Linked DNA regions of Homo sapiens: region 2 is linked to region 1. The links come from fine-mapping of genetic effects on gene expression. A gene starts in region 1. The other region holds a variant in brackets. All regions are shown on one strand. Distances are from middle to middle. Region 1 holds the start of CD52 (CD52 molecule). Region 2 overlaps CEP85 (centrosomal protein 85).

Region 1 (4,391 bases):
GACTGCTTCCTGCTTTGACACAGGCAGGGACAGAGGTGATCACTGCCCCTGTCCACCCCCTTTCACAGAAACTTTCTGTTTTTTTGAGATAGAGTTTCGCTCTTTTGCCCAGGCTGGAGTGAAGTGGCATGATCTCGGGTCACTGCAACCTCCACCCCTCAACCTCCCGAGTAGCTGGGATTATAGGCAGCCGCTATCACGCCCAGCTAATTTTTTTTTTTTTTCCGAGACAGAGTCTTGCTCTGTCGCCCGCCCAGGCTGGAGTGCAGTGGCGTGATCTCGGCTCACTGCAAGCTTCACCCCCAGGTTCACGCCATTCTCCTGCCTCAGCCTCCCGAGTAGCTGGGACTACAGGCGCCCGCCACCACGCCACGCCCGGCTAATTTCTTTTTGTATTTATGGTAGAGACGAGGTTTCAATGTGTTAGCCAGGATGGTCTCGATCTCCTGACCTCATGATCCACCCGCCTCAGCCTCCCAAAGTGCTGGGATTACAGACGCGAGCCAGCGCGCCCGGCTCGCCCAGCTAATTTTTGTATTTTTAGTAGAGACGGGATTTTGTCATGTTGGCCAGGCTGGTCTTGAACTCCTGACCTCAGGTGATCCGCCTGCCTCGGCCTCCCAAAGTGCTGGGATTATAGGCGTGAGCCACCGTGCCCGGTCACAGAACCTTTCTTTTCACCTTTCCCCAGCGACCAGCCCTTCTGGCATAGAGGGAGACAGGGGAGCCCTGGCCCTTGACCTTCCTAGCCTGGCAAAGGGCTTAGCTTCCCTGAGCCTCAGTTTCATCTTCTGAGTGGGGAGAAGTTCATCACAGTTGTGAAGGTCACATGAGCCAGGGCTGAGTGAGAAAGCACTTGGCAAAGCGTGGGTGGCTGGATGTGGGGTGGGGAAGTGGCCAGATGGTGATCGAGCTGTCCTTAATGCTTGATGGAGCTGCAACTAGAACTGTTCTTGATGGAGATTAAGCTGGTTTTGATGGTGATCAAGCTGTTCTTGATCAAGAACTTGATGGCTCCGGTCTGCTGTACTGACTCCCCTCTGGGCACCTGGGATGCTACCAAAGCTGCCTCCTGGAATAGCAGTCGCTTTTGAGACTCCAGTTGTTTCTGAAATGGGAGAGTCCTGTCTTCTTTGCATTCCTGAACATCCAGGCTTCTCTCTGGCAGGGGAGTGGGGGTTAGAGTGTCCCCTGTCACCTCCATAACCACAGCAGGCTCCACTTGGACATCTCCTGGCCTCTCCCCAAAGGACCATCTCCCCAGACTCCCTGTGGGCCGATGCCTTCCTCACTCAGGGTTGTCTTCCCAAGTCTCTTAGTTCTCTATTATTCCACAACACCCCTTGGGTGCCCCAACGCGCCTAGCACCCTGTAAGTGCTCCCCAGCTGTGGATACAGGTTTCTCTCAGGGCAGCCCGCAAGCAGTGCAGCCCCAGCCAGAAGAGCTGGAAGGCTGGGCGGCCAGGCCCGCTGTGTCCCCAGTTTTCCTGTTGGAGTCCATCTGCTGTGCTCTCAGGAGAGAAGGCTGGGTCTCTGGGAGCTCACATCCTGTATGCCCTCCCTCCATGCCAAGCAACTTTGGGGAGTCCTGGCAGTGGTGCCAGGCGTTGCTCTTACCTGTACCATAACCAGGAGGCTGATGGTGAGTAGGAGGAAGAGGAAGCGCTTCATTTTGGTAGGATCTTCGTGGCTGTCTTGGTAGCAGCTTTTTAGGTGATCTCAGGGCTGTCTGGAGGCTTCTTTTGGTTTAGCTGCTTTTGAACCAGGAGGCAGAGGAGGCGGGGTGAGGTAGGGAGAGGAAGGAGGGCTTACAAGGTGGAGGAGGGGTGTGGCTTCCTTTCTGCAGATCTGGGGGTGGATAATACCAGGCTCTAGGTTCTAAGGCCCTGGCTGGGGGAGCAGGCTAGATCGTACAAGATAGGAGAGAGGTCAATCCAGAGGCAACGGTGGGAGTAAGTAGGGCCCAAGGCCTGGAATCATGCATCCTGCAGGCTGAATCCTGGTTTAATCACTGACCAGCTCTGAGACCCTGGGCCAGAAACTCTACCTCTCTGACCCTTTAACAAAAGAACTGCCGGATTACATGTAATAATAACCAATTTAAAAAGAGCCAGAACATAGCAGATATTCCGTAAATGAGTTTGTTGTTTAAAGAAGATTGGGGCAGGGTATAGGAGCTGAAGGAGAAGGGCTGGGATAGATTTATGTTTCAAGGGAAGGTTGTAGATGGGCTGCAGGTTCTGAATGAAAGCTTGGGAAATGTTTAGATTGTGGAAGGGTTGGTGGATTTCTGTGAAGGTGCTGGAGGTGAGGAATCGGGAAGCCTGGTTTCAGTTGGGCTTTCCCTCTCTAGGCCTCAGTTCCTCATTTCAAGGAACTGGGAAGACTGAAATAGATTATTTCTGAAGTTTGTTAAAACCTAGTGTTTTGTTTTGTTGTTGTTGGTTTTTTTGTTTTTTTTTTTAAACAGAGTTTTGCTCTGTGCACTGGCATGATCTCGGCTTACTGCAACCTCCACCTCCTGGGTTCAAGCAATTATCCTGCCTTGGCCTCCCGCATAGCTGGGACTACAGGTGTGTGCCACCATGCCTGGCTAATTTTTTGTATTTTTTTTTTTTTTTTAGCGGAGACTGGGTTTCACCATGTTGGCTAGGCTAGTCTCGAATGCCTGATCTCAAGTGATCCGCCTGCCTCGGCCTCCCAAAGTGCTGGGATTACAGGCATGAGCCACCGCGCCCAGCCAAGACCTAGAATTTTGTGATTTTGGTAGAGAAAGTAGCAAGCAGATGGGTTGTTTGTATTAGCTGAGGATGAATGGGAGGGGAGCGAGGGAAGGGACAAGTGGGTGACTAAGCTACAGTGGAAGGGGACTGGGGTGAGAGAGTGGCTGTGAGGGCCCAGGGAGGGGTGGGGGGATGAGAGGAATCCCACAGCTGCCTGGATAGTGCTCCATGCTTTATGCATTCCCTCACTTGATACCCTCTGTGGTGCCCTGCAGCAGGTGTTATGTTTATCCCCATTTGACTGGTGAAAAAACTGAGGCTTAGATGTTAAGTGACTTGCTAAGGTCGTAAATGGTGGAGCCAGTCTCATTTGACCTTGAATCCAGGTCTGTCTGAAGCCACAGCCATGTATGTAACCTCTGGGGCTGCCCTAGAATTCATCCATTAAGTCTTGATTCCCTGCCACTCCCTCCCCCTCCCCTACACAAACTCCCCCCAGGCCCCAGGAGTTGGTCACCACAACCCCAGCTCTGGCCCACTCTCCCTTCACACTCTCCCTTCCTTAGTCTACTTTAGGCCTCATTTACATGCTAGGTAGTAAAGGGAAAACTCCCCTCACTTCTCTTCTATTGTTTTGGGCCTTGTGTTGCAAGCCCAGGGGAGATCTGGCTGAGGCTGAGTCCAAAGAAAAAAACAGAGGCTGGGCATAGGGGCTACGCCTGTAATCCTAGCAGTTTGGGAGGCTGAGGCGGGCAGATAACTTGAGCACAGGAGTTTGAGACCACCCGGGCAACATAGGAAGGCCCCATCTCTCAAAAAAAAAAAAAAAAAAAAAAAAAATTAGCCGGGCATAGTGGCACAAACCTATAGTCTCAGCTACTTGGGGGCTGACGCAGGAGGATTGCTTGCACCTGGGAGGCCCAGGCTGCAATGAGCCATGATTGTGGCACTGCACTCCAGCCAGGGTGACAGAGCAAGACCCTGTCTCAAAAAAAAAAAAAAAAAGGCCAGGAAACAGTGGCTCACGCCTGTAATCCCAGCATTTTGGGAGGCCGAGGTGGGTGGATCACCTGAGGTCAGGAGTTCTAGACCAGCCTGGCCAACATGGTGAAACCCTGTCTCTACTGAAAATACAGAAATTAGCCAGGTGTGCTGGCACATGCCTGTAATCCCAGCTACTCGGGAGGCTGAGGCAGGAGAATCACTTGAACCCGGGAGAAGGAGGTTGCAGTGAGCCGAGATCGTGCCATTGCACTCCAGCCTGAGCGACAAGAGAAAAACTCCATTTCAAAAAAAGAGAAGAGAAGAAAAGAAGAACTGAGAGTCAAAGCTGATGAGAGAAAGCCAGGAAGTGGAGAGGGAGGGGCGGGGAGGGAGAGAAGAGGGAGGAGTCCCCAGCCATCCATCACCCTCTTTCCCCATCCCTGCCCTTTCACCCAGAGGTCTCTCCTCACCCTTGACTCAAGTTCTCAGCTGTCTTTGGTGTGCCTGTGGGGGTGAGTGATTCTGGGGTTCATGAGAGTCAGGGAGGTGTCCTGTGCCAGAAGGGCACCAGCCCAGAAGACAGGATACCCGTGTTGAAGTCTGAGATTACTCTGCTGAAAATGAGCTCCATCACACTGTGCAATCTTCTCCCCTCTTACAAAGAGGCAGCCAGACAGGACGAGC
Region 2 (4,391 bases), 78 kb after region 1:
GGGTGGGCAGATTACCTGAGCTCAGGAGTTGGAGACCAGCCTGGGCATATGGCGAAACCCGTCTCTACTAAAAATACAAAAAAATTAGCCAGGTGTGGTGGTGCATGCCTGTAATCCCAGCTACTTGGGAGGCTGAGGCACAAGAATCACTTAAACCCAGGAGACAGAAGTTGCAGTGAGCTGAGATTGTGCCACTGCACTCCAGCCTGGGCCACAGAACAAGACTCCGTCTCCAAAAAAAAAAAAGAAAAGCTGAAATTTTTTGTGTTATAGTGCATGTCCTATCAGTAGCATCCTTATCAATTATTAAGACCATTATTAATCTGAATGAGATACTATTGAAGAGAGAAAAAAGCCATAGGAAAGGCATTGTTCCAAAAACTTGCATTATATACATAATTGTCATAGAAACTGTACAAACCTAAGAGAATGTGCAGCACATAGCAGATGTTTAAAAAATATTTCCTGAGGCCGGGTGCAGTGGCTCACGCCTGTAATCCCAGCACTTTGCGAGGCCCAGGCGGGCAGATCACAAGGTCAGGAGATTGAGACCATCCTGGCTAACATGGTGAAACCCCGTCTCTATTAAAAAATGCAAAAAAATTAGCTGGGCATGGTGGCGGGCACCTGTAGTCCCAGCTACTTGGGAGGCTGAGGCAGGAGAATGGCATGAACCCGGGAAGCGGAGCTTGTAGTGAGCCGAGATCACGCCACTGCACTCTAGCCTGGGTGACAGAGCGAGACTCCATTTCAAAAAAAAAAAAAAAATTCTGCTGAATGAATCTTGAATTGATTCAACCAAAGCTTATAATGGTGCCTACTCTATGCAAGGCAGCATGCCTAAGAGAATACACCAAACATTTACCAAATATCTACGCTGAGTAAGGCACTGTGAGATTTTAAAGTTAAATAAAACATACCCTGAGTTGAATTAAACGTGCCCTCTTCTTTACCAATACCCCAGAATTCAACAAGTCATTTTTCTAAAATATTACTTATTTGAAATATATATTATCTACTTAATATGCCTGCACAGTGCATACATATATTTATGTGTTTAATATACAGTCAGCTCTCCATATCCATGGTTTCTTTTTTTTCCCCTTTTTTTTTTTGAGACACAGTCTCACTCTGTTGCCCAGGCTGGAGTGCAGTGGCGTCATCTCAGCTCACCTCAACCTCTGCTTCCCGTGTTCAAGTGATTCTCCTGCCTCAGCCTCCCAAGTAGCTGGGATTATTATAGGCACATGCCACTGCACCCGGCTAATTTTTGTATTTTTAGTAGACATGGAGTTTTACCATGTTGGCCAGGCTGGTCTCAAACTCCTGACCTCAGGTGATCCACCCGCCTTGGGCTCCCAAAGTGCTGGGATTACAGGCATGAGCCACAGCGCCTGGCCATATCCGTGGTTTCTACGTTTGTGAATTCAACCAATTTTTTTTTTTAATGGTATCTTACTGAATGTGCATAAGACTTGTTTTTCTTCTTATTCCCCAAACAATACAGTATAACTATTTACATAGCATTTACATTGCATTGGGTATTACAAGTAATCTAGAGACGATTTAAGGTAAACATTAGGATATACACAGGTTATATGCAAATACCACACCATTTTATATCAGGGACTTGAGTATCTGTGGATTTTGCTATCTGCAGGAGGTCTTGGAACCAGTCCGCCATGGACACTTAAGGACTGTATATATTTAATATATCTACTGAAGTTTCAAAATCTTGTTAATCCATTCTGAAGATAAATTCCTGAGTTTCTAGTAACAATGCAACGGAATCTGTTGGCATCCAAGCAGAATTCCTATTTTTGTGGGCTAGCAGATGACTGACCCACCCAGAGGACAAAGACAACATAGAACACAGTAATTTATGCTGTGTTTTTCTGATTTCAAATGGAACTATGTTCCAAAGTCATTCTGTTCCAATCCTTTATATGTCGTCCTCTCCCAACCACGTGGTCCTGTTGAAAGCCACATAGCACAAGAGATAAATACTTGTTCCCTCAGAGACCTGTTTTTATATTCAATGAAGCCCCATGTTATTTTTATTCTTTTAGCACCAGCATTTCAGTGAATGCTTGTTTGTTCAATATTTACCTTAAGGAATATGAAAAAACAGAACAAAGGTCAGAATTTAACCCAGAAAACTTCTGACTACTCACTCGGTGAAGTGACGTGAGAGATCCCCTCAGTTGGATATTTCTCCTGCATGGCCATCAATCACAGTTATTTAAGCCAACTGTAGAATGAAGGAATAACCAGTCAGTTCTCTGAAGTATCTTTAATTCCCCGCAACTCAGTTCC[C/T]ATTCAACTGAAACTGTCAAAACCATATAGAATATTCAAGTATTTGGCCAGGCACAGTGGCTCACACCTGTAATCCCAGCACTTTGGGAGGCCAAGGCGGGCAGATCAACTGAGGTCAGGAGTTCGAGACCAGCCTGACCAACATGGGGAAACCCCATTTCTACTAAAAACACAAAAATTGGCCGGGCATGGTGGCACACATCTGTAGTCCCAGCTACTTGGGAGGCTGAGGCACAAGGATTGCTTGAACCCGGGAGGCAGAGGTTTCAGTGAGCCAAGATCACACCACTGCACTCCAGCCTGGGCAACTGAGCAAGACTCCATCTCAAAAAAAATAAAAAAGAATATTCCAGTATTCTAAATGTTATATTCCTAAGGATATTTAGGAGTAAATATGTTTTTACATGTTTTACTTCTAAGGATATTTTTAAGACAAAGTAAATCCCAATACTCCACTCTACTTCTCTTCCCAAATCCAGTATAGAAAACCTAGAACCAGAGATTACCAATACAGATTCCATACGGTCCTAGAACCCTTCTGATTTTTATAAAATTTAAAAATATTACTTTTAATTAACAAACTTTACCATGAATCTTCTTAGCCATGGGGACCTGATGACAGGACGAGGTGGATAAAGAACTAAAGAACTAAACCAACAGTGAAGTATTACAGCATCAATTATGATTAACACAAAACAAATTCCTCAATTCTTCCAGTAATTAAAGTCAGTCATACGATGTAAAAAGATGGGAAAGAATTCTTGCTCATAAGTAGAACTCCAATCCTGAGCTAGGAACGTGAAGTTCTCGTCCCATGTTCTCACTCCTTAAAATATTTATATTTACAGTACACTAGGGGTAGGTGCTGAGAATTCAGCAGAAGTGGATTTGAAGTCTAAACAAATACACTTGAACCCACTAAACATTAAGTTATCAATTTATTAGCTGTGTAACCTTGGGCAAATTTCTTAGTATCTCTGTTCCTCATTTTCTTCATATAAAAATGAGGATAACAACACAACCTAATTCATGTTAATTCACTTATAATTAACTTACAACAGTTCCTGACACATACTAAGTGCTGTTATTACTTGGCAATTTACATCAACAAAAGTAGCACTGTACAGCCCATGGAAGATCAAGGAGTATCAACTCAGAAACTCTAAATTTATAAAAGCCCCAAAAGAGTTTGGGACAATTCGGCCGGGCTCAGTGGCTCACGCCTGTAATCCCAGCACTTTGGGAGGCCGAGGCAGGCGGATCACCTGAGGTCAGGAGTTCGAGACCAGCCAACATGGTGAAACCCCGTCTCTACTAAAAATACAAAAATTAGCCAGGCATGGTGGCAGGCGCCTGTAATCCCAGCTACTTGGGAGGCTGAGGCAGGAGAATCGCTTGGACCATGGAGGCGGAGGCTGCAGTGAGCCAAGATCGCGCCATTGCACTCCAGCCTGGGCGACAGAGCAAGACTCCGTCTCAAAAAAAAAAAAAAAAGAGTTTGGGACAATTCACAGAACATAATTCTATCACTCTGGAGAAAAAAGACTATATGGTACTATTTCTCTAATGTACTTTAGTGACCTCTATAGTATTCTCTTGTTACTAAGAGAATACTATAGAGGTCACTAAAGTACATAACAACCCAAACCCTTATTAATTCACTGCATCTACAATAGAAAGGGTATCATCCTCCACAATTCCAGTTCTTCACATACTGGGTGAGGGAAGCTTTGTTCAGTAATAAAAGCTTTAGTTTATGGCAAGTATGATTCAGTGAGTTAAATGATGACATAGAATGATTAGATTACCTCCTTACTAGTGATTTCCTTTCTTGTCAATATCAAAATCCTTTTCTTCACTCCTTTCTTTAAAGGATAACAAAATGGTAGGCGCACTGGATTCTAAGGTGTTTCTAAATTCAGACAAGTTGAAAATACGGTGACAGAAGGAGAACTCCGAGTTACCCTATGACTCAGCAATTCCACACTGAAGTATACACCCAAGAGAAATGAAAACACAGGTTTACACAAAAGCTTCAATAAGAATGTTCGTAGCAGCATTATTTACAATAGCCA

The links. PIP is the estimated chance that this variant, and not a neighbour inherited with it, causes the effect.
Region 2: its variant is the best candidate, but not a certain one, in a credible set for the expression of CD52 in whole blood (TOPMed, PIP 0.76).

What each region holds. Positions count from the first base shown.
Region 1 is chr1:26,315,298-26,319,688 of GRCh38, reverse strand. CD52 (CD52 molecule) reads right to left here and starts at 1,731. Exons shown (of 2, transcript NM_001803.3): 1 at 1,618-1,731. The coding sequence starts at 1,671. It also overlaps a transcript of UBXN11 not described here. RefSeq lists enhancers at 725-824, 1-951, 1,325-1,474, 1,605-1,674 and a silencer at 1,749-1,941.
Region 2 is chr1:26,237,622-26,242,012 of GRCh38, reverse strand. CEP85 (centrosomal protein 85) reads right to left here. Exons shown (of 14, transcript NM_001319944.2): 2 at 2,175-2,251. The coding sequence starts at 2,229. Among named protein-coding and RNA genes, the nearest start is that of CEP85, 5.6 kb to the right of the region's middle. The variant C/T (reference allele first, on the strand shown) is at 2,317.